Homo sapiens: one gene and its partners. The protein of the gene in region 3 interacts with the protein of the main gene of each other region in a biochemical or structural test. Each region holds a gene or a part of one and is shown on either strand. Other genes may lie near its edges.

Region 1 (10,707 bases), on a different chromosome or scaffold from region 3:
TGGGAAGATGTAAAGGGCCCCTGGGCCCCACTCTTTGAGCAGTGGGTCGCTGGGCTGATGTCTCCCAGTCCTGCAGCCTCTGGGTCCTGTCCTGAGTTGCTAACCACTCTCTCCTCTTTGGCACTTTCTCTGGTGCATGGAGGCTTACACAAGTCGAATGTGGCTCTGTCTCCCGTGGGACCACATGGCCAAGGCCTCAGCTCTGCCAGGGTCCTGCTCCTTGGACAGTGGACATGGGAGAGATCGGGCCAAAAAGCACCACATTACCCTCCATGACAAGCTGTGCCGCAGCCTGTGGAGACATGGCAGCCCTGGCCCCTGCCACGGCCCCTGGGCCTCAGATCATGCTTTCTGCAGCTGTTCCTCATCAGGAACCATGTCCCGCCCAGCTGGGCCCTCCCCTTTCCCTCCTCTACCTGGGAGATATGACCCCTGGGTGGGCCATGAGGGCAACAGTGTATCCTAGAAACAGGCAGGCACAGCGGCAGCTTAGTGGCCGGTGAGCACCCTCACCATGTCTCCTTGGGGGAGAGGGAGAGGTATCTACAAATTAAACCGCCACTCACACAGAAACTTGAGTCTGAGCTAAATGAAAAACAGATTTCACATGGCAAGTGGTACCTACAACTTTTCTGGAAAGCAACTGTGTATTTACACAACAGTGGACGCCTTTTACATTGCAGAGGGGCGGGTAAGAGCGGGATGGCTAGGAAGCTACAGCACCTATTTGGTTATGAACACAGCATTTTCAGATGGCTGGGGGAATAGATGCCACTTCCCACTCAAGACAGGGATTTGCTCAGCGGGAAAGCAGGTAATAAAGGCAGCACATCCTGCACTTTGAACTGCATCCGTCTCATCCTGCAGCCACCCTGTAGCTCAAAGCACAGTTCTGGAGCCTATTAGGTCCAAATCTCAATCTACCCTTGAGTCAGCGAGGCCTTAGGCAAGAGGTCCCTCGAAGTCTGTCTTCCTGTGGCAGATGAGGACGGCCACACCACAAGGCAGTCGCTGGGCCGGGGCCCGTGTCCGAGGTGGCAGTGTGCTTGGGCTCCATGTGCCTAGCCCGTGCGTGTGTTCATCACTGGCAGCGGTGACTGCGTGCTGCTTGGGGGAGAGCACTTGAGCTGCCTCAGAACACCCTGGTGAGCGGAGGACACTTGCATGGATGGAAGCAGGACCGAGGCACCGTGTTGGTCCCTGTGAGACTCTGGGTGCACTGAGCTTTGGGGAGGGGTGGTGGCACAGACCTGGGCCTTTCTACTCTCCTGGCACACAGCAGTCAGCGCTCCCACTTCCCTTCTCCACTACGGTGTTTCTCTCTGGTGTGGTTTGGGTGGAAGTTACCAGAAACGCAAAGCCCTGGCACTGCTACTTCTCCTGGGGGAGAACAGATTTGTGGCCTGCCTTTCGCCAGGAGGGCTCCTGGCCTTGCCTTGCTGATCGGCAGAGACTTGCTCCTCAAAGGGAAGGGGTAGTTGGTCCTTCTGAGCCATGTTTCCAACCCATCTGGTAGGCTGGTCCCCTGCCCCGCTCTCACTGCAGCCCTGGGCCCGCTTTTCCTCTGGCCCTGCATGGAAGGGCCTGACCCACTGGCTTTACAGACACATGGTCACAGAGGGCCAGGGTCAGACTGAAAAGCCAAGTCTTTCAGCAGCAAAAATGGCGAAGATATCAAAGGGCGTCAATGCTGCTGGCTTGGCTTTTGCAGCAGGTCTCACCTCGGGAGGTGATGCCGGGCGACCTCCTTTCAGTCCTCCATGGCTCAGCCTGGCAGCTCAGGAGTGGGCATGCTGCGGCAGGTCCCATCTCACTACGCTGGGGCAACCATGCATGGGCACAGCTGCATGCAGTACTCTGCTCCTGGGGTCCACCCCAGCTATGATTCCTGAAGTGAATAAACCCTAAGTCACTTAGCAACTCACCCTTCAATCCTCTTCAACCTTCCTGAAATAGCAAAGTAAACCTTAGGTGGGTCAGAGTTCCACCCAAAGGCGAGCCTCTGTAGACACCTGCCATCCAATGGACCTTTGGGGACCCCCCTTCCCTTTCAACCTGGCTGGACTGCAGCAATACCTCCTTTATTTGATCCCTGTTTATGTCCACATATGTACTGTATTATCACAGATGCAACTGATTTATCATAGAGCACTCAGAAAACATGGAAAAGTATTTTTAAAAATCGAATAATCCTATTCAAGTCAACCAGTGTTAACCCCGGTGTGCTTCCTGCCAGTCTGTTCCTCCCCATGGGAGTCACACAAAATGAAAATCTCCTAGAAAGAGAAATTCCTCTGTCCTCTGACTTCTTCACTTAGTACGCTGCGACCTTCCCATGTTGTTCAACATCCTCAACTCGGAGCGTCACTGGCTGGAGGTGGTCTATAAATGGAATTGGCTTAACTATCTCTTCACTGAAAGGTGGACATTTAGGGAGTGTCCAGTTTTCAGCTGTCATAAACAACTGCCTTAGACGGCAAAGAATTCACAGGTCAATCGTTCCCTTCGCTTTGAACTTCTTCGCAGACCGTTCACTTGACCGAAGCTGGAATTTGCTCCCGTAAATGTAGGAAATAAAGCCATCGGTTTCCACAGTGAACACGCAGTTTAGCTTGGGGATAACTGAAAAAAAAAAAAAAAAAGGCAGGAGAAAAAAAGATGAGGAAAAATATTTATTAATATTTTACTTTTAGGTAGAATATTATTCAGAACACATTGAATGAAAAAAATAAGCTAATAGGAAACGGGAAACCCACAAGGGGAGGGGCATTAGGGTTGCCTGTGGTTATTCTGCCACAGGTCAATCTAGTCACATGCTAAATGTAGCTTGGCACCTAATCTTCAGGGTCAAAGGCTATACACCAAATTCCCAGAACCAGAAAGTCCCAGAACACCTGCCAGAAACTGGTTTTCCCACATTAACTTTCAGATGGGCTCCTGGCCTTATGCTCTGTGGAGAAACTATTACACCACTTTCCGAGGTTTACAATGTGAGGTAGAAGGATATGTAGGAAAATAAGGGAAGCAACAAGAAAAACCAAGCTCAAAAATTAAAGGAAGAAGGCTGGGCGCGGTGGCTCACACCTATAATCCCAGCACTTTAGGAGGCTGAGGCAGGTGAATTACTTGAGTTCAGGAGTTTGAGACCAGCCTGTCCAACATGGTGAAACCCTGCCTCTACTAAAAATACAAAAATTAGCCGGGCGTGGTGGCGCGTGCCTGTAATCCCAGCTACTTGGGAGGCTGAGGCAGAAGAATCCCTTGAATCCGGGAGTGGAGGCTGCAGTGAGTCGAGATTGTGCCACTGCACTCCAGCCTGGGTGGAAGAGTGAGACTGTCTCCAAAAAAAAAAAAAAGAAAAATTAAAGGAACAAAACCTTCTAACTATGGTTTGATATCTCTGGATTTGTGGGTAAGGCGGGGTGTAGAAATCCTGGCTGACCCAAAGTATCTGCTAGAGCAATGCTGGCCACGGATGGAACCCAAGTGTTATCGCCAAGGACACAGCTCAGAACTCCAGGGACAGGCGCCACTCCTGTTTCTACCCTGCTGCCTGTTTGGCTACATTCCTCTGGGAGCAGCAGCCTTTGGGGCAGGTGGAGGCCCTCTCCTGGGGCCTAAACAGACCCAGGTCCCCTGAGGCACAGCCGAGCAGGTCTTCCTTCCCCTTGGCCATTTCTGGCCGGGGTTGCAGGCTGCACTGACACACACCTCTTGGGGGAGCCACGGGTGCAGGGGATGGTCTCTGCAGGCTTTAATGCAGGTTCAGCAAGTATCTGCAATCTGCGCTGACTTGAGGGGTCAAATCAAACTCTTGGAGCCTTGAGGAAAAGGCTAACGCAGTAGCTGGGAGCCACAGCCCGCAAGCAATGCCCTCAGAAACACCTACATACCTTTCAGGCGGTCTTCTTTGGTGATAATTTTGAAAATGTGCTTTGTTTCCTGTAGAAGGATTCCTGTAATACCCACATAAGAGGGGCATTTGGATTTTGTCACTGCAAAGAAAAAGGACAGTTCCAGGCTCAGGCCTCTGTGGTGCTGGGGGAACCACAGAGAAGCAGGCCTCAGGGGTTGGGGGTGCTGATCCCACCCTCTGAGCTAGCAGATGAAAGAACAGAGCACCCAGGGGGTGGGGGCTCAACAGCTGGGCCCTGATGTAACCAACAAGAATCCAGGCTTCCCCTGGGGCTTTGCAGCCTCTGGACTGTTCCTATGAGGTGTCCTTCGGAGGGTCTGTGGCCACAGGGGTCTTGGGCAGGATTCTGGAATTAAAGGTCACATATGTGCCCAGCACCATCAGGGCCCACGGGCTGGCTGCTCTGATGCAGCCAGGTCTCCCTTGCAGGATCTGCACAAACACCACCATGCACTGCCCAGGATGCTGGCTGGAACGTGAGTGTGGCTGCAGAGCTGCCCAGCAGCCAGCACTGCGAGATGAGCCACCATCACAAGCAGCAGCCCCTCCCTCGTCCTGACCCGAGCCTCAGTGTAGCGGACAGAGTCACCAAGCAGCTGTGGAATGCCTGCACCATCCTCAGGAGATGCCAGGGACACAGCACGGAAAGAGGCGGTCCTGGATCCTACTCTCACGGAGCCCGGGTTCTAGCAAGGCAGGGTGATGCACGGTGAACCACACCATTCTACTTTCTGACAGCAACGAGTGCTATGAAGAGTAGGGACAGGGCAATGTGTGGAGGGTCATGGTTTGCAATGGTAGACCCTGAGGGGAGTGGCATTGGAGCAGGGCTGAACAATGAGAAGCTGGACTGTGCACACACAGGAGAACTCCCGGGTAGAGGTAAGGAGCAGAGGCGAAGCCCTGAGGCAGGGCAGGAGGAAGGCAGTGTGGGAGGCCTGCTGCCCCAGGGAGCGGGGAGGCCTTAGACCACAGCAAGGAGGCAGGTTTACTCCCATACGATGGGACGCTGCCAGAAGACTTGAAGCAGGGAAGGAACGTGCTCTGATTTCTACGTAACCGGCACTCTGGCTGCCTGGTGCGGTGAGGAGCTGTGTCTGAGGTAATCTGGGGAATGACAGTGGCTGAATTTAAGTAGTAGGATGTTCCGAAGGATTCGAGGAGATTAGGAAAGAAGAAACATAGACACTGTTTAGGTTTTTGGTCTGAACAACCAGTGTAAATAACTGAGTAATTAACTGAGATGGAAAAGACCAGGAGGGGTTGCTGTGAGGAGAATCGGTGGCAGCTTTGGCTATGTAAAGTCTGAGATGCCCCCTGAACATCCAGGTGGCTATGTCAAGTGGGCAGCTGGATGCCTGAGCCTGGAGTTCAGGGGACAGGCCTACGCTGGAGATGTCACCTTGGGGGCTGTCAGGTGTAGCTGACATTTGAAACCACAGCATTGGATGAAAGGGATTCTGTGTTCAAGATCCCAGGCCGTGGGTGAGTGCTCGCAGCCACTGTGCCCTTTAGGGTACCAACAGGGGTCCCTGTGTGGAGAAGGTACACAGAGACCACTTAGGGTGTGTCCAGCAAATGGCCGGACTGGCTAAGACAGCCAGCGAGAAGCATCTCCCACCCTTAGCGTGGGGATGATGGTGACTGGGGGCCATCTCAGGGAATCCACACGGTAAAGAGTGTGTCCAACAGAACACACGCCCTGGGTCTCCACAGAGTGACAGAGTGAACCTCTGGATGGCCATGTGCTACACGCTCTTAGGTAAATTACCTGAAATAATAGCCCCGTGAAGATCTGCCTTTAAGAGCTTGGCCTGAATCATCTGTGGCTGCCTGCAGGGTAAACAGAAGCCCTTGGTTTACATCATGATAAAAAGTTCCAAAAGAAGCAACTAGGTCTTTAACCGTCTGCAGCCAGGCAATACCAACGCTGGTTCCTGAAGCCGCATTTACAATGATCAGAGGCTTGAGATCCACCCCAAAGAGCAAAGCTTCAGGAATGCAACTTACGTGTCTGGCTTGAGCCCACTGCACAGGTCCCTGATGTACTGTTTCCAGAGTTCATGGAGAGGGAGGAAAAGGCTGTATCTGCAGCAAAGTCAGAAACAGGGAAAAAGTTAGACAACATGAGCTTGGGATGACAATGTCCAAATAGCACAGAGCTTGACTTGATGCCAACAACTGCAACCTGGGATCATTAGGAACTATGTGCAAATCCGACGATGAGCAATTGAGCTGATAACCGAGACCAAGAACCTACACCTCTCTAACCTCAGTTTCCTCATTGGTAGGACCACACCAGCCCAGGGCGGTGTCCACCTGGACTTCTTTTCATGAGAGAGAAATAAACGTGAGTCTTGTTGAAGCTACTGTTATTTTGAGGTTTTCTGTTACGTGAAATTGAACCTAGTAAGCCCCCAGTAAAGCAGGGGTTGCTGGTTGTCACGCAGGTCCTCATGTGAGGCAGCAGGCTGGTCTGGAAGGTGGGCAAGCAAGTGGTGGGGAGAAGAAGCGGGGAGCAGGGGCAAGGACCCCAACAGCGTTCTTCTGGGCCATTATCTCCAGTCTTGATATCCTGTGGGGAATCCGTTACCACAAAGCCTTAGGTTAGAGAAATGAGGACCTTAAGCTCAAACCCAACCTGGGCTCCACCCGGGAGGCAAACCCTGGGAGGCAGCAGCCCCTTCTCCACCTGAGGCCCAGCTGATCTCCTGAGTGGGGCCGGGAACAGCATGGCATACTTTAAGCGTCTTCTGGAGCGTGGGAGGCTATTTGGCCGTTGATCTCCAAGCAAAAGCCTACAGACAGCCCCAAGACACCCACACTCAGACCCGTCACCAAGGAGGGATGGCGGGTCGGCTGGAGGAAGACATCCTCCCACAGGACAGGACAGTGATGCATTCCTTTTGGAAACTTCTGAAACGTGTGGGCAACATCTTGCTTTGGCAATGAAACCCGAGTGGGTGACTGTCTGGCTCTATCAAAAGCTACAAAGTAATACACACTAAAAACATATCAGTTCCTCTTTTCTGTCTAACAAAGCCGAAGGACAAACAGCCTGTTGCCATGGGCAACAGATGTACTTGCACGGGTCTTACTCCTGAAGGTGAGGAGAGAGGCCAGACAATGAGTCCTGTCTCACCCGCCTCGCTGAACACAGCCCAGATTGGTAAAGGAAGGCTGCCCTCTTGTGGCAGACGACAGAGAGGCCCCCTTAGCTTAGGTGGAGCCAGGCTGCCTCCCCAGCCACTCAGCCAAGTTCACACACCAAGAAGGGTAAGCACCGCGGGCAGAAAGACGTGGGGAGCTCGGGTTACCTCTGCTGCTCTGGTTTAATGTCAAAGAGCCGCAGCTCCCTCCTTTGCCTGGCAGAGAGGCCTTTGGCTTTCTTCTTCTTCTCCTTGCGCTTGTGGCGGGTGAAGTACTCCAGGACCACCGCCTTGCGCTGCAGCTGGTCCTCGCGGGCCTGCGGGCTCATGCGGGGCGTGCTGCGCTTCAGGAAGGCCCTCACGAAGGCCTCGGCCCGCTGTGCTCCTGAAGGCTGCAGGCGGACAAGGGGGTGCGGCGCTCACTGCTCCGGTCTGGGCAGCCCAGGATCCCAGGCATCCCGCCCGCCATTCCCGGCAGCTACTGCAAGAGCAAATGGGGCCCATCCCTTTACCTACTGAGGCTCTCAACCTGCTCATCCGCCATGCATCTGCTACCCACAGCTGCCGAGATGTAAGTCACACTCACACACCAATTCATGACCGTTTGTCACACACAACAGCGTGTCAAACGCTCACTTCCTGCTCTGGCCCTGCTTTTCTGAGGTTATTCTGAAAGGACCAAAACCTTTCTATCTTGAAGAAGAATTCTCTCATCCTTGGCAGAAGAGAAAGCTTGAGAAATGTATAACAAATATATTCAACCAGGCATGACCAGATGAAAGTGAGCTCAGAGTAGCACTAAGCTATGGAGGAAGTGATCCTAACACTACAGAAAACAGCAAAACTAGGGCTCCAGGGTCGGCCAAGCCTCAGGGCGCAGGGACCCTGACACTGTGCCCTTAGGACAATACTCCTTAACCGGGTTTCCAGCTCTGTGGGCATGGTGTGGCCACTCTCCAAAAGGTCCGCTCCCGCCCCGCAGACCATCACTTGGAGGAAGGTACCGTCGAGAGCATCTCAGGCCCCAGGCTCGCTCTCTCTGAAGGGTGTCACTGAGAGCAGGGCGTCAACTTACCATGAATGAGCACAGGCTCTTAGAGAGGACTTCTGGGAAAAATGACTGTCGTAATTGTGTGCAATTCTCAAACAAACAAACAAACAAACAAACAAACAAAGAAACCCTCCAAGCTCACTACCTCTCAGGTTGGAGTTCCAATAACGGATTCCTCATTTGGTGGCAATGCCACTGCCCTCATGCCTGCCACAGACCTGGGCAGTTCTCTCTCCTGAGGGCCTGTCTCCTGGCTGGGCTGTTTCCTGAGCTCTTTTTGCACTAGCCAGGTGCTAAATGCTAAGACTGAGGCTGACAGACTGATGCTGATCTGTCAATAGTAACGCAGCCTTCCTTCTGTGGGAGAGCAATGGGGATGGGAAGATAGGGTACATATAGCCTTCGAGGGAGCTCACAGTATGATGGTGGGAACTCTGCTTCAGCTTTGCACCTGTAGATGCTAACTAAAAATTAATTCACTCTCGTCATTGTGACTATAATAGGACAATGATCTGATTCTCTTAAATACCTGAGTGGCTCATCTTTCATGGAGAAGCAAAATAAAGGTATACTGGTCTTTCAAAATCTTGCTTTCAAGGTAATGCTCTCATTATGAGCCACAAGAGGAACTTTTGCAAAACTGACAAAGCAGGCCGAGGCATTCAGATATAATCTGTAAATTTCACTTATGATATGTGATTGCACACCTTCTGCAGAAGTGCAGAGGGCACAGTGACAAGGTTGAATGATGCTGCCCACCACGTGGGCACAGCCTGGTGTCCCCAACACAGTGGGAAATGATAAAAGGTTAAGGAAAGCCTCATTTTACCAAACTTGACTTTGGCACAACAGAAAAGGAGGCTGGCACGTGGGAACAGGTAATGAGAACTACAGACTTTGATCCAGCCTTAGATGTCTGCCAGAAAAATGAGGAGTATGATGTGGGAAAGGACATCTCAATCAGTGCTGGGGGCTCAGAAGCTACTGAGCCATCTTTGCCATCACCTCTGTTGCTCCTGGACTCCCTGCCAAGAACTGACCTGGACATCGGAGTCATTCGCCTCTTTCTGAGACAATGCATGGTAGATCACACCTGGGGGATTAAAAAAAAGAAATGATCAATTCTTGTTGGGTATGGCTGTAAGACCCAAGACTTTTCTAACTATGAAAATAACTACGCCACTAGGCGCAGTGGCTCATACCTGTAGTCCTAGCACTTTGGGAGGCCAAGGCGGGCGGATCCTGACCCAAGGTCAGGAGTTCAAGACCGGCCTGGCCAACATGGTGAAACCCCGTCTCTACTAAAAATACAAAAATTAGCCGGGGATGGTGGCTTGCACTTGTATTCCCAGCTACATGGGAGATTGAGGCAGGAGAATCGCTGGAACCTGGGAGGCAGAGGCTGCAATGCGCCAAGATCGTGCCATTGCACTCCAGCCTGGGTGACAGAGTGAGACTCTGTCTCAAAAAAAAAAAAAAAAAAAAAAGAAAAGAAAAGAAAAGAAAATAACTACACTTCTACACTTATAGCAGAACAACTGCTTATTCAGAGATAGGAGAAGATGAGGTTGGTATTAAGAGCAAAGCTTTCTTGGATGCCTCTTATCCCACCCTCTGGCCACATCTATGCTAGAAGTTCCAAGCACATGGTTTAAAAAGAATGCTTCTCAAAATTTAACGTGTGTAAAAATCTCTGGGATCTTATTAAAATGCAGATTATTGGTCTCCTACCCTAGATCCTGAGTGTTTAACATATTCCCAGATACTACTGCAGGTCAGTGAATCACATTTTGAGTTGCATTGGTTTAAAATACCCCAAGTTAGAAGCTTGAGCACTTGCTAACAAGGTAACTCATTAAAAGTTATATGATATAGCTGTCTAGGATGTAGATGGTTAGAAATAGGTTTTGTTAACTGTAAGATGTTTAAAAAGATTCTTCACATTTTAATATGAAATTATAATGTGTCACATAATCGATGGTGTCCTGAACTGATAAAATACAAGTTTTTCCTTTAAACTCAAAATATACATTGGTCAATAAAGTTTCAACCTCTAAAATAAATTCCACACTTCTGTTTCTTAATTTTTTGAAAGAAGAAAACCATGGCACTGGGGACAGAGTACAGGTGTGAATGGAATAAGAATGGGACTACTAAGGCCTGGTTTATGAGCTAAATAGCTAGAAAATGTAATTTACACTATACTCTGTAAATTTAATTCCAGCTTTCTTGTACTTCCCTGAGAATGTTTGATGCAAGGTGGTTACAAGTTTTTTTTTTTTGTTGTTTGTTTGTTTGTTTTGATACTGGGTTTTGCTCTGTTGCCCTGGCTGGAGTGCAGTGGCACAATCATAGCTCACTGCAACTTCGACCTCCTGGTTTCAAGTGATCCTCCCACCTCAGTCTCCTGAGTAGCTGAGACTACAGGTGTGTGCCACCACACCTGGCTAATTCTTTTTTTTTTTTTCCAGTTTTTGTAGAGACAGGGTCTCGCTATGTTGTTGCCCAAGTTGGTCTTCAACTCTTGGCCTCAAGTGATCCCCCTGCCTCAGCCTCCCAAAGTGCTGGGACCACAGGCGTGTCCCACCACA
Region 2 (11,205 bases), on a different chromosome or scaffold from region 3:
GCGATCCTCCCACCTCGGCTTCCCGAAGCACAGGATTCCTTCTTTATACATACTTCTCTCATGTCCATTATTCCTAGAAACGTGGATGATGGATGTGTCTCCTCCACGCTGCCTCCAGGCGCTGTTTATCATGAGAGAAAGTGGCCTGTGGTTTGCACCTCTTCTCTTTATAAAGCAAAACCACCTAAATTCTGGACACATGCTATAATCAGCTTAACTTGTTTTTAATTATGGTAAAGGCACAGGACTAAACGCCTATTCAATTTGACTCAGTTTTCTAGGGGAACAAACCCAATGTCACTCCAAGTCTGCAGACACACCGAATAGGATTACATTTCCAAAGGACTGGAACCGAATTGGGTGGTCACATGAGAAGCTAATTTCCGACACTTCGCATAAATAGTAGCATTGGTGGAGAAGGGTGACTGGGAGAAAAAAGAAACTCAATGTCAGCAAAGTGACTGAGCTTCAACGTACAACAATGCAACAAGAAACCTTTCAGCTTGCTTTTGCATAAAGCTACATTTTTAAAATATTTGCGTTTTCATGAAAATCTTTTTTTTTCTCCTCACAAATATTTTCCTGGTGAAATCAGTGCATTTCCAAGTGAAGGACCAAAAGCAAAATGTTAGAAAAACCTACTGGGCAGTTGTTTGTGTTTGAAGTCCTAGATGATGGGAAAGGTCCCGTGGGGGTACTGAGGCTCATGGCAGCTTCAGCACAGCCAGGCCTTTCTCTGTTAGCCTAGTCCTGGCTGCGGGCAGAACCCGGTCTGTGGTGTTTCAGCAGGAAATACTGCACTGAGTTCAGGTATCAGTCCATATCTTCAGCTGAGACATTCTGGAATTATCGTCACTGTAAGAATCCAGAAGAGGAGAGGGATGGACGCTACATTGTTCTCTGCTTTTTTCTCTAAATCCAGAATGTTCTTTTAAGACCTCTTTTGAAAGTATTTTCTTCTCCTGGGTTGCCATTCCCCATCTCATTGCCTAGCCATGTGTGTCTTGTCTTGAGATGCAAGAAGGGGCCAGGCGCGGTGGCTCACGCCTGTAATCCCAGCACTTTGGGAGGCCGAGGTGGGCAGATCACTTGAGGTCAGGAGTTCAAGACCAGCCTGGCCAACATGGCAAAAACCCTTCTTCTAAAAATACAAAAATTAGCTAGGCATGCTGGTGGGCACCTGTAATCCCAGCTACTTGAGAGGCTGAGGCAAGGAGAATTGCTTGAACCTGGGAGCCGGAGGCTGCAGTGCGCCAAGATCTTGCCACTGCACTCCAGCCTGGGCAACAGAGTGAGACTCTGTCTCAAAAATAAATAAGATAAAATAAAATAAAATAAAATAAAAACCATAGCATGAGTTTCAGAATAGGTTTTTCTTTTTCTATAAAAAAAATCCTTTGGGATTCTGATAGGGATTGCATTGAATCTTTAGTACTGTCACGATGAACATTTCTTAACCCTGGCAGTGCATTCAATTACCTGGGGAAAAAAAGATACAAACCCCAGTCTGATCCCTAATTCCCACCACCATTTTGATGTAATGGCTGTAGGGTTGGACCCAAGCCTCACGAATGGTGCATCCATGGTTTTGCTCTCTTCTCTGCAATGACAATTTAGCTCTCCTTGGCTGAACAGTACATGTGGTCCTCCGGGATGGACCAGGTCCTGCTGACCTCTTCAACCACATCTCTCGCTATTTCCCACAGGCATGGATGCTCTACCCCAGGTAACTGAAGGACTTCAAGTTCCCTTTCTCCACGTTGGTAGATAGTTGCCACTCCACTGTCTGGCACACCCTTTTCCTTCTTTTCTTTTTATTTTCTTTTCCTTTTCTTTTCCCTCCCTCCCTCTCTCTTTCTCTCTTTGATTTTTTCTTTTCTCTTTCTCTTTCTTCTCTCTCTCTTTCTTGTTTTTGAGACGGAGTCTCAATCTATCACCCAGGCTGGAGTGCAGTGGTGACATCTCAGCTCACTGGAACCTCCACCTCCCGGATTCAAGTGGTTCTCCTGCCTCAGCCTCCCTAGTAGCTGGGATTACAGGCGTATGCCACCATGCCCAGCTAATTTTTGTATTTTTAGTAGAGATGGGGTTTCGCCATGTTGGCCAGGCTGGTTTCAAACTCCTGACCTCAAGTGATCCACCCGCCTTGGCCTCCCAAAGTGCTGGGACTACAGGCGCGAGCCACCATACCTGGCTCCTTTTCCCACTTTCTTAACAGCCAACTCCTCCTTCAAGACTTAGCCGACATGGCAACACCTCCAGGAAGACTTTGAGACAAGAAATAGCTTTAGCCTGGTCTTCTCGTCTATGAGCCTCTGGCCATCTCTCTCCGTCTTTCTTCTGTTCTCATTCTTACCTGCCTTCAAAGGGCTTCCGCTCCACTTGGCCTCCCGGCTGTTCTAACAGGCCTGTCGCACTGCTGCTCTCCCGTCTCTACCTCAGAATTATCTTCCCAGGGTCGGCCTGGCTCAGTGCTTCCACTCCTCTAGGTCTTTGCTCATCTGTCATCTCAGGAGGCCTTTTATCACCCATCCTAGCACCCCCTTCCACTCTTACCTGCTTTTTCGTGTTGCTTTTGTTTTTTTCTGAGATACAGTCTCACTCTATCACCCAGGCTGGGGTGCAGTGGCATGATCTGGACTCACTGCAACTTCTGCCTCCCAGGTTCAAGTGATTCTCCTACCTCAGCCTCCCGAGTAGCTGGAATTACAGGTGTGCGCCACCATGCCCAACTAATTTTTGTATTTTTAGTAGAGACGAGGTTTCACCATGTTGGCGAGGCTGGTCTTGAACTCCTGACCTCAAGTGATCTGCCCACCTTGGCCTCCCAAAGTGCTGGGATTACAGGCATGAGCCACCGCGCCTGGCCTTCCCTGCTTTTTTTCTGTAGCACTTTGAATCATCTGACAACTTAAATCGTTTACTTTGTTTACCGTTTCTCCTCCTTTAGAACTCTGGCTCACCACTTTATCCCCAACACTTAAAATTCAATGAATATTGTACCTGTAGGAAAAGGCGGGGGGGGGGGGAAGAAAGGGAGGAGGGGGATAAAAAGGAAGGATTAAATGTCTTTCAAATTTCCCCGTTTTCATAAAACAGCACTGCTGAGACCCCTGACAACCTTGGACATCTCCACATAGCCACAGAGCCAAGGCCTGACTGCGGTCTACCCTGAGTCCTCGCCGAATGCCTGTGATTTCCCTGGGAGCAAGGCAAGGCTTCCCTTTTTTTTTTTTTTTTTTTTTTGATTGAGTGCAGGAAACTTTATTGATGGTACACGACAAGGTGAGGCTCCCATGGTGTCTCCCTCTTCAGGGCGTCTGCGTGGAAACTGTGAGGAGGGGAGATTCTCAGTGGGGGCGGGGGCTGAGTGGGGCAGGGACTCCGCAGCAGTGAGAGCCTCTCTCGTCCTCTCGTGCTCTCACTGGGGCTGGTGGTCCGGGGGTCTTACTCCTTGGAGGCCATGTGGGCTCCGCCACCCTGTTGCTGTAGCCAAACTCACTGTCATATCAGGAAATGTGCTTGACAAAGTGGTCGTCGAGGGCAATGCCAGCTCCAGCATCGAAGGTGAAAGAGTGGGTGTCACTGTTGAAGTTGGAGGAGATGACCTGGTGCTCGGTGTAGCCCGGGATGCCCTTGAAGAGCCCTCTGAAGCCTGCTTCACCACCTTCCTGATGTCATCCTATTTGGCAGGTTTTTCCAGATGGCAGTTCAGGCCCACAACTGACACGTTGGCAGTGGGGACACAAAAGGCCATGCCAGGGAGGTTCCCATTCAGCTCAGGGATGACCTTGCCCACAGGGCTTCCCTATCTTGTGGGAGAGTCTCACAAGGCTGTTTCTCATCCATGTCCCTAGTTTAGTTGAGACTAGGGCTTTCCATCTTCCCCTTCTTTCTCCGCACCCCCTACAACCTGCTCCACTTTAGGATGGAGCCGCAGGCTTCTGTGTAAATCTGTAGAACTGCTTGCTGAAGTTTAGTTTGTTCCTCGACAGAGTGACCCACCACTCATAAGACCTGTCATCTGACCTCTGAGATTGGGAATGCTGTCCCATGGGATTAGAGATGCAGGGAGCTGACATCATGTTGGTCTTGATTTTGCTGTTTTGTGAGACCTGCGAATTGCTCAACTGCTTGAAACTCCTCACCTTCACTTGTCTCTATGGACACAGATATTCTTTGGAGTACTATACCGTTCCAATTAGTAAAGCTTTCAGTATTCATTTTGCATCTCATCATTAAAGTTTATTCTTAGTAACTGATTTAAAATAATGAATTGTTTACATAACAACTACTGTTACATAACACACACACACACACACACACACACACACACACAAACACACACACACAGCTAAGGTCAGAATACCATGGAGGAAAAGAAGAATCTGGTGGTCAATTCCCTTACATTCTTCTATTGACAAATTTTCTTGTTGGGACCTTCACTTATTTCATCAAAGGATTGTGGCTAATGATCTAATTTATTACTCAGAATCTTTTTATTTATTTGTTTTGGAGACAGGGTCTCACTCTGTTGCCCAGGCTAGAGTGCAGTGGTGTGATCATAGCTCACTGTAGCCTCCACCTTCTATGCTCAAGCAATCCTCCTGCCTCAGCCTCAGGAGTGGCTGGGACTACAGGCACACACCACCATGCCCAGCTAATTTTTTTTTTTTTTTTTTCTGTAGAGACGGGGTTTCGTCATGTTGCCTAGGCTGGTCTTGAACTCCCGGGCTCAAGCAATCCTCCTGCCTCAGCCTCCCAAAGTGCTGGGATTACAGGTGTGAGCCACCACAGCCGGCCATCACTCAGAATCTTAAGTCATTGTCAAATAATGGAAAGCATACAAATCAAACAGTAGTCCAATTCTAGAATTAATATAAAAAGAAAGCTCTAATATACAAAGACCAAACAGATTTTACAGGATAAAACAACTGTCATTAAAAAGTAAAACTGGCAGGTGTGGTGGTGCACATCTGTAATCCCAGCACTCTGGGAGGCCAAGGTAGGAGCATTACTTGAGCCCAGGAGTTTGAGACCAGCCTGAGCAACATGGCAAGACCCCGTCTCTACAAAAAGTACAAAAATTAGCCAGGCATGGTGGCATGCTCCTGTAGTCCCAGCTACTCAGGAGGCTGAGGTGGGAGGATCACTTGAGCTTGGGAGGAGGTTGCAGTGAGCTGAGATGGTGCCACTGCACTTTAGCCTGGGCAACAGAGCAAGACCCTGTCTCCAAAAAAAAAAAACCGTTTCTTCAGAATAGGATATCAAATATGTAAAGTAATAATTTGAGAAACATGAAAAAGCGTTATGTGTAAAGAAAATCAGAAGACTTAATCTGTATTAGTTTAATGTAAAAGCATGCACATATGTGAAACAAAGTAGAAGGGAACACTAAAGAAAAAAATGGGTGTGATTGGGTCATGGGAGAATGTTTTTTACTTTTTGGTTGTAATGTTTGTGTGATACAAGAGGGACAGAAATTACTTTCGAAATGTACTTGTTAATTTTAGCAAAATCCTCGTGGAAATTATACTGCTAGTTTTAAAATAAAACACAAGCACTAAAATAATAAAGGTTATGTTTCATTTTTATTAACTTAGTTTTGCCACGGTTGAGACTGGATTTGCCATAGTTCAATTTATCAAGCACTTAACTATGTGTTCCGCACATAATAATCATCTTAGCATAGAGGAACATGTCTTCTAATCCGCACAAGAGATACTATTTTTATCACGTCATAGAGGAGGTTAATAAACTTGCCTAGGTCATAAGATCTTCAGTTGATGAAGTTAGGATTTCAACCCAGAGCCAAGTAATGTAATGGCTGATGTTTTCCACAGAGAAAATGTAAGCCGAGATGATGCTCAAACTATAAATCTGGAACCTTAGGGGGACAAAAACGTATGGATGTCTCCTTCCCATTACTTTAGCATTTTAATTAGATTCCTGTGTCTCTATTTGTCTTTGGAAATGCAAGCTGCTTGCAGTTCATCATAGCTAACTCACACAATTCATTTTATGAAACACAAACCTGTTCTCACAAACTCACTGTCATCTCTTTTTAATCTTTCTAATTGTGATAAAAATCATACTGCACTTTACCCTGTGTAACCTCCAATGATCTTTGACCAAAAGCCAAATCTTTTTTTTGTTGTGTTTACTTATGGACAGTTAGGTTCTACATAGGTACTTAAACATGAAAATTGAAATCATAGAGGCTGGGCACAGTAGCTCATGCCTGTAATCCCAGCACTTTGGAAGGCCGAGGTGGGCGGATCACCTGAGGTCAGGAGTTCGAGACCAGCCTGACTAACATGGTGAAACACCGTCTGTACTAAAAATACAAAAATTAGCTGGGCTGGTGGCCCGTGCCTGTAACCCCAGCTACTCCGGAGGCTGAGGCAGGAGAATCACCTGAACCTGTGAGGCGCTGGCTGGAGTGAGCCAGGTTCGCGCCATTGCACTCCAGCCTGGGCAACAAGGGCAAAACTCTGTCTCAACAACAATAATAATAATAAATAAAAGAAAGAAATCACAGAAACTATACCAGAAAATAGGATACAAAACCAACAGTGAGGAGATTGAGAAAAGGAGGCAGATACGTAAAGAGGAAAAGGAAGGGGGCCCAAGTAAGGCCGGAAAAAGCGGGGAGAAGGAGGAGGCTCATTAGGTCAGAAGCAACCTGCCGTCTTCTAAGTTCTGGCCAAGGGTAGATCAACAGATCCAGATTCCTGAGCTTTAAAATGTTATTCGGCCGCTTCATCACTTGTCCCCGACTTTGCAGCGACTCCGATGGTAGCCTGAGTCTCCATTGCTTGGAGCAGCCACAGTGGACACTGGACGGGATATTCTGTGCAGCTGTTGCTGAACTCAAGGCAACTCTTACTGCCTTTCTCTTTTCGGGCTCAAGATTCCCTGCATTATTGCCCATAGGCATGTGTTTTACCCCATACTCCTTCTCCCTTTTATCTTGATTTTCGCGGTGCTGGGGAGTCTGCAGGGATTCCATGGCGACGGGCTCACTGGGACAGGGGCTGGGGTTGTGCGTCCCTGAGGCAAGGCAAATACAGAAAAGCGAATAGAGACAGAGGGCTAAGATTCCAAAGCACTGAAAGGTAGAAACTGGGTTAGAAGAGAGAGGGGAGCACAAACGCCCGGAGAGAGCGAGCCCTCGGGATACCATTGGCTATAGGCTGGCCTCCGAACAACTGGACGGTCCAAGTCCTGAGCGTCTGGTTACCCGGGCAACCGCATGGTCTCGCGATACATACCTCGCGCCTGCGCACTGCCCCTGTAGCGGGGGTGGGGGGACCCGGTCCGGAGACTCCACCCCGGGGCCTAAACTCGAGTCTAAAAGATTGGGCCTCGTTGTGTCGTTTCCGGGTCGCGCGACGCTGTGGGCCGCTTTCCCCTCTCCGGAGTGACCTAACACAGGATAACGAAACCTGCACTGCTCCGAGCGCTTCCTCCCCGGCCCGTCGCGTCTGCGAGGCGAGGCCGGGAGGCGAGGGCTCTGCGCACGCGCGGCGCAGGCGCACTGGGCGCCGGTGCTGTTGCCTTCAGGTGACCACGGATTCGCCATCGTGAGTTCCAGGTGGGCGCGCGGGGCCCACGTAGGGCAGGAGGCCAGCCCCGGGGGGATCGGGCCCGGGACTCTGCGGAATCTGGAGGCCGAAGCCCGCGCGCACGCAGGGTCTCTGCTGCTTCCCCAACGCCTGTTGCGTGGCCGCAGGACCCGCCGCCCTCCCGGTTGGGCCGCCCAGTCCCGGGCCGGGCGCGTGCACCCAGAGCTTCCGCGTTTCTAGTCCGGCTCCTCTGCTGGATTGCAGCGCCGGCTGGGCACCAGGAGTACAAAGCGAAAACCCCCGCCGGCCCTTCTGTTCTCCACGGTCTCCAAGGAGACACGGACAACAGAACAACACTTCCGTGTGCTAAATAGTAAAGCACCAAGGTACTCGATCCAGGGGCGGCGTGCAGTGGGGAGGTGAGCTTTGGGTCGGCCGTCGCCCCTCGGCTACCGGCGGGATCCAGAAACCGGGAGTCACCACCAATACCGTTCTCAACTTTACTTCCAGCTGGTCACTACTGTGTCGGGAGATTCTACCTTCTTTTCCGACTAACATGTATTTTTCTCCAGTCCTTTCTGCGGCGTCTCTAGTGCAGGCCACCGTCATTTCTAACCTGGACGACTCCAGGAGCGTCTTTGCTGCTCGGGGACTCTTCCTTTGCCCAGATCCACAAAGATCTATAACGTCTTTCTAATCACGACACCTCTGCTTTAGATGTTAAAGTTGCTTCACACTGGAACGCTTGCAAAGGTCTTCATTATCTGGTCCTTACCCACCTTTCCTAGTTTCTCACCGCTTTCTCTAGCATCTCTGCCCCAGCCACATTGAACTTATTTGAACGTGTTTTTTTTTTTTTTTTTTTTTTTGAGACATAGCAGTCGCCCAGGCTGGAGTGCAGTGGCGCGATTCCGGCTCACTGCAACCTCCGCCTGCCGGGTTCAAGCGATTCTCCTGCCTCAGCCTCCCGAGTAGCTGGGACTACAGGCGCCTGCCACCACGCCCGGCTAATTTTCGTATTTTTAGTAGAGACGGGTCACCACGTTGGTCAGGCTAGTCTCGATCTACTGACCTCAAGTGATCCGCCCGCCTGGGCTTCCCAAAGTGCTGGGATTACAGGCGTGAGCCACCTCGCCAGCCAACTTATTTCTTTTAATACTGAGATACCTTTCTTTACTCCATACTTCCTTTGGTAGGCATTGTTTAGATGTAGGTTAAGAGGTCCGGCCCGGCGCGGTGGCTCACGCCTGTAGTCCCAGCACTTTGGGAGGCCGAGGCGGGCGGATCACAAAGTCAGGAGATCGAGACCATCCTGGCCAACATGGTGAAACCCCGTCTCTACTAAAAATACAAGAATTAGCCGGGCGTGATGGCCCGTGCCTGTAGTCCCAGCTACTCGGGAGTCTGAGGCAGGAGAATCGCTTGAACCCTGGAGGCGGAGGATGCAGTGAGCCGAGATTGTGCCACTGCACTTCAGCCTGGCGACAGAATGAGACTCCGTCTCAAAAAAAAAAAAAAAAAAAAAAGTTCCTCTGTGAGGACTGCCTTTTCCCACCCCCCTCAACTAAGCTAGGCCTCTGCTGGATGTTCCCTAAGCATACTGTTCCCTGACCTTCATGTGCATCAGGCTTTATTGTATAATTACTTGCTAATATTTTTTCCTCGTGGACTCTAAGCTCATGAGGTCTGTGAGAAAAAATACTTAATCTTTATGGCCTGGCACATCGTGGATAATCGATAAATATTTGTTGAAGAAAGGAAGGGGCCTGCGGCTGAGGGTGGGAGTGGTATTCCAGGCAGAGGGACTAATGTGTATAAAGACTTGCAGGTGGGAAAATGCTGGCCTCATTAAATAGTATGTTGTTCGGTGTTGAGGACTTGTGCTTGGTGGGGCCTAAGGAGAAAGAGGGCCTAAGTGGGAGATTGAGCTGGAGTGTGGAGGGCCTTTTATGTCACATTAGAGTTTAGGCGGGGCATGGTAGCTCATGCCCTCAATCCCAGTACTTTTGGGGAGGCCGAGGCTACGGGATTGCCTGAGCCTAGGAGTTGAAGACCAGCCCAGGCAACAAAGCAAGACCTTGTCTCTATAGAATTTCTTTTTTTTTTTTTTTTAAGACGGAGTCTTACTCCATTGCCCAGGCTGGAGCACAGTGGTGCAATTACGGCTCATTGCAGCCTCCGCCTTCTGGGTTCAAGCAATTCCCCTACCTCAGCCACCCACCTAAGTAGCTGGGATTACAGGTGTGCACCAGCACTCCTGGCTAATTTTTGTATTTTTAGTAGAGACTGGGTTTCACCATATTTGCCAGGCTGGTCTCGAACTCCTGACCTCAAGTGATCTGTCCAGCTTGTCCTCCCAAAGTGCTGGGATTACAGGTGTGAGCCACCGTGCCCAGCCTATACAGAAAATTTAAAAATTAAAAAAATTTTCTGGGCTTGGTGGTATGCGCCTATAATCCCAGCTATTCAGCATGAGGCTGAGGTGGGAGGATTGCTTGAACCCAGAAGTTCAAGGCTGCAGTGAGCCATGATCGAACGACTGCACTACTGCCAGGTGACAGGGCAAGACTGTCTAGTAAAAAGAGTTTGCCCTTGATCTACAGGCAGCAGAGGCCTCTTGAGACAGCTCTAAAGGGCCCTCAGCAAAGCCTATTTTTCTCTCTTTCTCTAAAGCTATAAAATCTTATCAGTCAGTACTTTGTTTCTGGATTATATTGCGTGAGATTATGCTTATCCAGACTACTTGGCTCTCTTTATCGCCCCAGCAGATTCTGCAGGTGGGACAAGTTTATAGCCTGTTTTGTGATCCCTCTGGAGCATGATTTTAAGTATTTATTCTGTGGTGTTTGGATGTGGAGACATCATCTGACTTGCAGTTGGCAAGAGCTCTGCCCCATCCTATTTGTTTCACCCCCTGTCACTTATTTCCCTCTTCCTGACCACTTTGAACCTGATGCCAGCCCCTCACAGTCACTGCATTGCATCTGGATGAGCCACTTTTCTTCCTGATTTCCTGAGCTCTAGGGGAGCATAGAGATAATGGGGTCAGGGGACACAGTGTGGCCACCGTGAAGGAAGCAGCTTAGGCCCCAGAAGTCTCCAGGATTGCTGTACCGAGATGACCAGGGTGTGATCTCTCACCCTAAGGAGCTGAATTTGGCTTTTCTGTGGGAAAGTGTCTGGGAAGAATATCAGAGACCAATAGCGCTCAGGGGGCCCTTTCTCGGGGCTGTCCAGTGTGGAAACACCCTGTCCTACACCAGTGGTTCCTGATTCCGGCTCTGAATCAGATTCACGAGGGCAACTTTTTTTTTTTTTTTGATATGGAGTCTTGCTGTCGCCCAGGCTAGAATGCAGTGGCGCGATCTTGACTCACTACAACCTCCGTCTCCTGGATTCAAGAGATTCTCCTGCCTCAGCCTCCAAGTAGCTGGGATTACAGGCAGGCACCACCATGCCTGGCTAATTTTTTTGTATTTTTTAGTAGAGACGGGATTTCGCCATATTGGCCAGGCTGGTCTCGAACTCCTGACCTTATGATCCGCCCGCCTTGGGCTCCCAATGTGCTTTGGTTACTGGCGTGAGCCACTGCACCCGGCCTGGGGCAGCTTTTTATAAGCACAGATGCCCAGGCCTT
Region 3 (8,750 bases):
GGGGAAAGGAGGGGAGAGGAGGGGAGGGGAGGGGAGGAGAGGGGAAGGGGAGGAAAGGAAAGGAGAGGGGAAGGGGAGGGGAAGGGAAGGGTGCCAAGACTGGAAGCTGCTGTTGCCAAAGAAAAGGCAGTGCCTGTATTCCTCTGTGTCCTCAGGAGGCCTATAATAACCAGAACCGCTGTGAAACTGGGGTTGATGCTTGAGTGGCCCACAGTTGCTACAGGCTATGTATTCTCTGCTAAACAGCTCAATCCTGGACCTATCTCTGTGCTCCCCAGGCCTCAGATCGGCTGGCTACGAGTAGGCCAGTTAAGACTATGAGGGAGTCCATATAGCTTGTCAACCGCCCCCCTCACCTCCCACTGGTTGGGAAGAAAGAACTCACGCAAGGCATGTGGCCGCCAAGACGGCAATGCTACACTTAGTACATGATGGGTGGTTACATACTAACTTCCCATTTAAAAAAAAAAAAAAAAAAAAGGAGTATTATCCTTAAAGCTCTTGCCAGTCAAGCACCAACAAAAAAACTGGTAACATGCACTCTGCTGCACTTGCATGGTATAGCTCTTTATATAAGCAACGGCTTATGTTATTAAAAGAAAACTACCCACATACATCTTAACGTCTAGGATACATAACAGAAGGTAACTAGTTATATTGCATGGTGAAAATCCAGGTGATTTAAATTTTGTTATTGTTGCTCATCTTCATTTTCTAATTGTTTTATGATGAATATGGATGACTGATATGAACAATATTACTAGAGCATAAACACCAAAAGGAATCCATTGTTTCTTACAGAACTCAAGTGCATAGCTGGTCTGTAAGTGTTCAGCTCACAACTCTGCCTTTTCTTTTCTTTTTTTTTTTTTGGAATGGAGTTTTGCTCTTGTTACCCAGGCTGGAGTGCAATGGTGCGATCTCGGCTCATTGCAACCTCCGCCTCCCGGGTTCAAGCAATTCTCCTGCCTCAGCCTCTCAAGCAGCTGGGATGGCAGGCATGCGCCACCATGCCTGGCTAATTTTGTATTTTTGGTAGAGACAGGGTTTCACCATGTTGGTCAGGATGCTTCAAGAACCCTAAAAGCATTGCTCCCTCAACAAGAGGACAAGGGCCACATTGCACTTATTTGGTAGCTATGTAGCTCTAGTACAGCATGGCAGGCACTTGGAAGGATCAAGATCAACACGCTAATCAATTCAACTGCCAGAAAGTAAGCCATTCCCCTATCAGTCTTTTTCATAAGGAACATGGATTCTTTACTGCCTCTGCAGAGTCTGTTAGTTTTTCAACGTATCTTCTGTGAAACTAGTGTTCTCTGGACAATAGGTATGCAAAAACCAAAAAAGGTACGTGTGTGGGAGTCTGAAAGACAGATTTCTTTCCTAAAGAGCTTTGCAGAGCTTTGACTCTGCAAGTATTCATTGTGAATCATAATAGGAGGATACCATATATAGCTTTTCCCATATTTATTTAGCCATAAAATACTTTTCTCCAGGAACAGCTGCAGGGACTAGTACTCCCAGGAATACATTTTGGGAAATGCTAATCTATCTTTCTGGTGCGCAGCTCTTTGACCTACCACCCACCAGGCAGAGTGGCTGCAAACGTGCCCTGTCCCCTATAATGAGGGCGGGGCAGCAGGCCCTAGGCAGGGCTGTACAGAATGAGGTTAGGTGACCACGCAGCACACTCAGACTTCTGTCATCGAGTGAGCTCAGCCACAAATGAGGTGACTGAGAGCCCAGAAAACAAATAAGGAATGGTCCAATAAATATAAATATTCACAACTGAACATCAGGTGACATTTTCATTTATTCTGTTTACAGATGCCACTTAGTTACACTGTTTTTTTTTTTTCAGTCTCATCTGGGTTGGATCCAAAGACATTCAGAGGCATGGTAAGAGGCAAAGCATCAGACATCTCATTGGTGGCAGGTACTTCCTGACTACTGTACCACCTGCTGTATCCTTCCCCACCTCATCACCCCCAAAGCCATTTAGTGCCAAATGCTACAGTAAAAACCCAATGCATTTACATAAAATAATGCCTAACTGCATATTTACATTTTTTAGAAAAAAAATCCCATTAAGCTCTTCTAGAAAGTTATGGCAGGAAAGGTAAGGACCAAGGCTATGAGCAAGCCATATGTGGAAACTTAAAGTAGATGAGCACTGAGTTTCTCCATAGTTGGAAAAAAGCCACACTGAGCCCACTCTTCCTGTGAGGCAAGATGAGACCTTCCTTTTATACCCTGTTGAGAATCTCAGGTGGACAACGTGACTGCATGAGTGTTGAAAGGCAGCTTGCCGGCTTAGTTATCACCTTGCAGAGGTAGCTATGCACTACACAGCCACACTGCCCAAAGCGCGCTACTAAGAACACTGGTCCTACAAAGGGCTCCTTGTAAGAGAACTTTAGGAATCACAAGTATTTAGAAAATACTATACACTATCATTTCCTTCCTAGAGATCCGCAATGCACATTATCACATGGAAGTTTCCAGAAGTTCTTTCATAAAGAAATGCTTAACTTTATTTAACCTAGAGTTTCCATATCAACCTGACCTTGGAATCTCTTACTTTTTTAGGTGACACATATCATAGAACATATTCTGAGAAATGCTCCTCTATGGCTTTGAGAAAATCTTTGCAGAAACAAAATAATAATAATTTTTTACTTAAAAAAATTAAGTAACTAGTAGGATCAAGTGTTGGTCAACAACAAAGAGATCAAAGAGTCAGGAAGTCCACGTCATAGACCCCCACTTTCTAATTCCAGCCTAGCACTGACGCCATAAACTGTGCCTGCCTGAAAACAGGCAGAAATCAGTTGTCCATGATTTCTCTCTTTAAGGCTTGAGTTGTTCGGCATGGAAATCACAGTACAGAATTGAATGAGGTCCATCAGGAGCCCATATTTCATGTACAGAGGCCAAGCGTCTTCTCTTGTCTTCTGCTATAACAGTGAAATCATTAAACATCTATTGTTGCTTATCACATGACTATGAGGTTTTTCAAATAGACCTGACAAGCCCTTTGTTTCTAACAAAAAAAGGGGATGATAACTCGTAGAGCTTCTCATTATTTTCAGCCACAACTACACAGACCAAGAGATCATAATACAAAGCTTTTGGCCAAATAATTTAAAAGTATTACAGCAAGGACAGGGAAAGATGAAAATCAATGACATTACTGGAATGATGTAAACATTTCATCATCTGCATAATACATAATTTTTTATTCTTGTTTCCAGGGAGTTTCACATGATATTTTAAAGCAGAAGCAGATTCTCCACATGTAGAACTTGGCAGACAATAATAACGTATTATCTATGCCCTGCTGGGATACAAGCACGCATTCACACCTCAATAGCAATCCTCGCAAATCGATACTGCAGAGAGGCGGGAGGCCTCAGTAGCACTAAGCCCCTCTGCGCTGCAGGCTGGCTGGACAGCATATCCAGCAAGCCTGTCAAGCTAACAAACCCCAGGGCTTCTCCACAGCCAACAGCCATGGAAAAATCTCCCTGAGTCACAAAGCCTAGGAGAGTTCTGGAGCAGTGCAACGTCACACGCGGCAGAGGGCCTGACCACAGCCCTAGAGTCAGAGCTTCCTGCCCAGCCACGGGCTCTTCCCCCGCCGGGCCATCAGAAGAGGCACGTCCTGGCTTCTGCCTCTTCTCCCTTTTCTTCTTCTCTTTCTGTTTCAGGATCTTGCTCCTGAATGGGTCACTGTGTTTGGATTCCTGGGGCCCACAGTAATGCCAGTCCTCATGGAGCTGGAGGAAGTCCTCCTTGGCTGGGACACAGATCATGGTGTGAGGCTCGGGGCTGCCCTTGCTGAGCAGGGACAGGCTGACCCAAACCAGGGCCCTGGGGAAGTGGCCCAAGATGGACAGGCAAGCCTCTCTGGTCAATCCTTGCTGGCCTCTGCCGGGAGCTCGCCGGCCTCCCCGACTATCCTCAGAACTGGGCCCACACCAGGCTGACAGTTGCTTCAGTAATTTTCTACTCCTACATGAAGTTGGAGACATACGTTTGAGGATATTTTGTTCCAGAAAAAAATATGCAATCAGAAGATTAGACACTGCTAGAATTAATTTGATTCTTTTATACTATATAAGAATCAAAACTACAATTTTTTAAAAATTAGAAATACACTGTAGTACATTTTAGTACTTATATTTTTCTTTTTATGTGTTTGCCATTCTGAAACTCAGGGACTAAAGATTTAAGAAGTTGAAGGCAGGGAAAACAAGACAGTGAGATAGAATCTAGGATTGTAATCACAGTGAGGGTGAAAATAAAGAGCCACTAAGATTTCAATGAGTAAAGGAACTGTAAGGGACTGTTACATGTAAAGTAAGAAAGAATGATAGGAAATTATGAGGCTACTATACGGAAAAGTAAGCACAAGGCTAGAGGGATAAGCACTTTTTAAAAATCAAAGCACAGGCCGGGCGCAGTGGCTCACACCTGTAATCCTAGCACTTTGGGAGGCTGAGGTGGGCGGGTCACCTGAGGTCAGGAGTTCGAGACCAGCCTGGCCAACATGGTGAAAATTAGCCAGGCGTGGTGGCATGTACCTGTAGTCCCAGCTACTTGGGAGGCTGAGGCAGGAGAATCGCTTGAACCCAGGAGGCCGAGGTTGCAGTGAGCCAAGATCACACCTCTGCACTCCCGCCTGGGTGACAGAGCAAGACTCCATCTCAAAAAAAAAAAAAAAAAAAATCAGAGCAAAGCACAGAATGCAGGGTCACTGATGAGCAGAACCTGGCCCACACCAATACTGAGAGGAGAACATAGTGTATCCGGTAGCCTCTCTGGCTAGGACTATATTACATCTAATGGGTTGCTGCTCTAACACAAATCCATATAATTCAAAAGGAACTAGAAGAAATCTAATTTGGTAATTTAAAGCAAAGAATCCTTGCTCAAACTGCATAAAATATGTCAGAAAAAAAACTGCCTTGGCTTGGATCTATTGATGACAATATTGTAAATCATTTCATCAATTAGCATCATGCCTTACATCAAATATTATTAAGCTGTTTCCCTGAGCCCTCTATGAAATATAAAAGACTGGCTTTCCCTTCCAGAAAGCCTATAAATTCACTTGGATTTTGCATAAACAAACAGTGATAACGCTTACATCCTGTAGCCTCTTCAATATTAAAATAAATAATCCAAAATGTACCCAGAAGTCACCGACACTTACCTGAGAACGCAGAGGTGACTCCCTGTGGCAGCAACATGGTTTTCACTGGCCTCCTGGTCTGTGATCCTCTCAGGCCCTGCCGATTCTTGACACCCTGCATCCATTACCTCCTCTGCCTCCCTGGGGTGCTCTATGGATGTGCCCACTTCATCAGATGGCTGATGAGTTTTTTTAGGCATGGGAGCACAAGGCACCTCAGATCTTCTTAGGTCACTCTCCTTACCATTTGGAGATGAAGCTACAGAAGGTTCTTCGTAAGCCTGGACTCTTGACTCCCAGTCTTGAGTTAACTGCTCCCAGGGACAGCAGAAAGGTGCCAGAGTGCCAAGCTTAACGTAGTTGGGCCGTTTTGCAGGAGGGCGTCTAAAGAAAAACATACAGGAGAACCAATGTTGAACAATTTAGGATTGGAAAACTAAAATAATTATAACCATTATAATGCATCTCTATTTTAAAACACACACACACACACACACACACACACACACACACACACACACACAAAAGCTTTCCAAGAAACATATGATAAAGAATAATAGGCTGGGCTCAGTGGCTCATGCCTGTAATCCCAGCACTTTAGGAGGCCAAGGCAGGCGATCACCTGAGGTCAGGAGTTCGAGACCAGCCTGGCCAACATGGTGAAAGCTCTACTAAAAATACAAAAATTAGCCGGGCATGGTGGAGGGTGCCTATAATCCCAACTACTGGGAGGCTGAGGCAGACGAATCACTTAAACCCAGGAGGCAGAGGTTGCAGTGAGCTGAGATCACACCATTGCACTCCAGCCTGGGCAACAGAGTGAGACTCCGTCTCAGAAAATAATAATAATAGGCCAGGCATGGTGGCTCATGCTTGTAATCCCAGCACTTTGGGAGGCCCAGGCGGATGGATCACGTCACGTCAGGAGTTCGAGACCAGCCTGGCCAACATGGTGAAACCCTGTCTCTACTAAAAATACAAAAAAATTAGCTGGGTGTGGTGGCACATGCCTGTAATCCCAGATACTAGGGAGGCTGAGGCAGAAGAATCGCTTGAACCCAGGAGGCAGAGGTTGCAGTGAGCCAAGATCATGCCACTGCACTCTATCCTGACAAAAGCGAAACTCCATCTCCAAAAAATAAAAAATAAAATAATAATAATAACCAATTCTACTGGCCAAGCTTTTTTGTTTTCTTTGGTCTTCAATAAACAATGTAGCCCCATGTGGCCACTGAACCACACCAGGGGATCCATTCCTGAAAGCTACAAGGAACTGGTGCCCCTAGAGTTGTGCCACGATTTTCCTGTACACTTACGAGGTTCTAAGCTCAAGGCTACATGAAGTTTCTGTCTTACTCTTGACCTCTAGTGACCCAGCTATCCTCCACAAAGGTAATAAATATCATTATCAGTTTCTTACATAGCCTTCCAGAGACATCTTATGTACACACAAGCAGATATTACATATTTCTTTCTTTTTATTTATTTTTATACAAATAGCAGCATACTAGGTACAGTACTTTTTGCTTAACTTCACTTTTTTCATTTAACAAAATATCTTGATTACTTTATACCAGTACTGAAAGCTCCCTCATTCTTTCTTTTTAATAGGCTGTGTATCTTGTATCTTACTCTACTGAATGAATATGCCCTAATTGATTTAGACAGTCCTCTATTAAAGGACATTTTGATTGTCTTTAAGCTTTTGTTCCTCCAAACAAGGCTGCAATTAATGATCTTGACGGTCATGCTGCCTTCCCCTGCACCACTATGACTCTTGTCACTCCCAGTGGCTTCAGCATCTGCCTAAATCATCCTTCCAATAACCCACCAGTCACCTTCCCACCCTCACTTCGCATGTCTTACTTCACCCCACCTCAAGCACCCACTCCCTGCTCATACCTTAGGTGTGGTCACTGCCAACACCTGCTCCAGCTTCAAACTGCGATGTCAGTATCCTGCTCTCAGAGCCATGCCTCCTGTTTTCCACCCACTTACCCTCCCACAACAATGCCCCAACCACCCATTTACACTAGCACCTCCCTGCGGCTCGCAGCAGCTGCCTCGCTCTTCATCAGCCTAGATGGCTCACACCACCGTCCCTCCCCTACAAACACCCCCACTCCCTCCACTGGAAAGCTGACCTGGGCGCAGCCAACTCTCCAATGACCCCATGCCAGCCCGAGTGGCAGAGCACAGCGGAGGAAGAACTCATGATGGTTCTTAACGGTCTTCCTTTATAAACACAAATCTCAAGTAGGTGCCCTCTACATCTTACAGATCCCATGTTTCTCCTCTCAATTCCGTCTTCCACTCTCCCAGAAACTGCTTACAATTCCTCTCTCCTCAAATCTCCAACAGCCTCTCTCCCCTTCTTACTGCTGGCTGATAGCTGTGCCTCTTTTTTCATGAAGACAGTCACAATCAGGAGTGTGCTACTTAATCCCCCCACTGCAGAATCTAACCTAGCTAAATAAATCCATGTTCAGATGTCAGTGGCAGGCTAACAGCCTTATATTAATTTTTCTGAGGAAGGAGAACTAGCCAACTTAAGAATTACAGAAAGAAAGTGGTTTGGAAAATAGGATTAAGAGCCAGGGCCGGGCACGGTGACTCACACCTCTAATCCCAGCACTTTGGGAGGCCGAGACAGGCAGATCACAAGGTCAAAAGATCAAGACCATCCTGGCCAACATGGTGAAACCTGATTTCTACTAAAAATACAAAAATTAGCTGGGCATGGTGGTGGGCACCTGTAATCCTAGCTACTCGGAAGGCTGAGGCAAAAGAATCGCTTGAACCTGGGAGGTGGAGGTTGCAATGAGCCGAGATCACGCCACTGCACTCCAGCCTGGCAACAGAGCAAGACTCTGTCTCAAAAAAAAAAAAAAAAAAAAAAAGAGTCAGAACTGTTTGTAAATCTAGTTGGAAGATAGCCAAAGAAATAAAAGCAGATTAAACTGTATCAGTGGCAGTCTCACAGTCTTATATTCAGAAGAACTGAACTCAATCCCAATAGATGCTGCCTCCTCCACGTGTGCCCTGAATCCCCCCCTTCTTCCTTGTCCAAGGACTTCGCTCTTACATTTTAGCTTCCCTCCCCTCTCCTGGGTACCCCCAACCAGCCTAGAAACTTGTGCCTCCATCAAGAACATAAGCTACGTGGCCAGGTATAGTGGCTCATTCCTGTAATCCCAGCATTTTGGGAGGCTGGGATGGGAGGACTGCTTGAGGCCAGGAGTTCAAGACCAGCCTGGGCAACAAAGCGAGACGCTGTCTCTACAAAAAATTTAAAAATTAGCCAGGAGTTGTGGTGCACACCTACAGTCCCAGCTACTCAGGAAGCTGAGATGGGAGGATTGCTTGAGCCCACGAGTTGGAGGCTGCAGTAAGCTATGATCGCACCACTGCACTCCAGCCTGGGTGACAGAGCGAGACCGTCTCAAAAAATAAAAGAAGAATATAAGCTCCATGAAGGCAGAGACAGACTTGTCTGCCTTGTCCCTGCTGTCACCCCACCGCCTACAATGGTGTTTGACACACAGTAGGC

What was found.
Region 1: the proteins of POP1 (region 3) and POP4 form a complex in vitro, tested with the Homo sapiens proteins (one study listed by BioGRID).
Region 2: the proteins of POP1 (region 3) and RPP38 form a complex in vitro, tested with the Homo sapiens proteins (one study listed by BioGRID).

The regions. Positions count from the first base shown.
Region 1 is NC_000019.10:29,607,159-29,617,865, reverse strand, and holds the end of POP4 (ribonuclease P protein subunit p29), read right to left. Parts: intron 9,210-10,707; coding exon 9,157-9,209; intron 7,458-9,156; coding exon 7,234-7,457; intron 6,005-7,233; coding exon 5,927-6,004; intron 5,750-5,926; coding exon 5,688-5,749; intron 3,996-5,687; coding exon 3,894-3,995; intron 2,623-3,893; coding exon 2,486-2,622; 3' UTR 629-2,485; downstream 1-628. UniProt on the Homo sapiens protein: Component of ribonuclease P, a ribonucleoprotein complex that generates mature tRNA molecules by cleaving their 5'-ends.
Region 2 is NC_000010.11:15,089,813-15,101,017, forward strand, and holds the start of RPP38 (ribonuclease P protein subunit p38), read left to right. Parts: upstream 1-7,542; 5' UTR 7,543-7,954; exon of another isoform or gene 7,955-8,321; intron 8,322-11,205. UniProt on the Homo sapiens protein: Component of ribonuclease P, a ribonucleoprotein complex that generates mature tRNA molecules by cleaving their 5'-ends. Also a component of the MRP ribonuclease complex, which cleaves pre-rRNA sequences.
Region 3 is NC_000008.11:98,152,884-98,161,633, reverse strand, and holds the end of POP1 (ribonucleases P/MRP protein subunit POP1), read right to left. Parts: intron 5,585-8,750; coding exon 5,222-5,584; intron 4,018-5,221; coding exon 3,363-4,017; 3' UTR 1,799-3,362; downstream 1-1,798. UniProt on the Homo sapiens protein: Component of ribonuclease P, a ribonucleoprotein complex that generates mature tRNA molecules by cleaving their 5'-ends. Also a component of the MRP ribonuclease complex, which cleaves pre-rRNA sequences.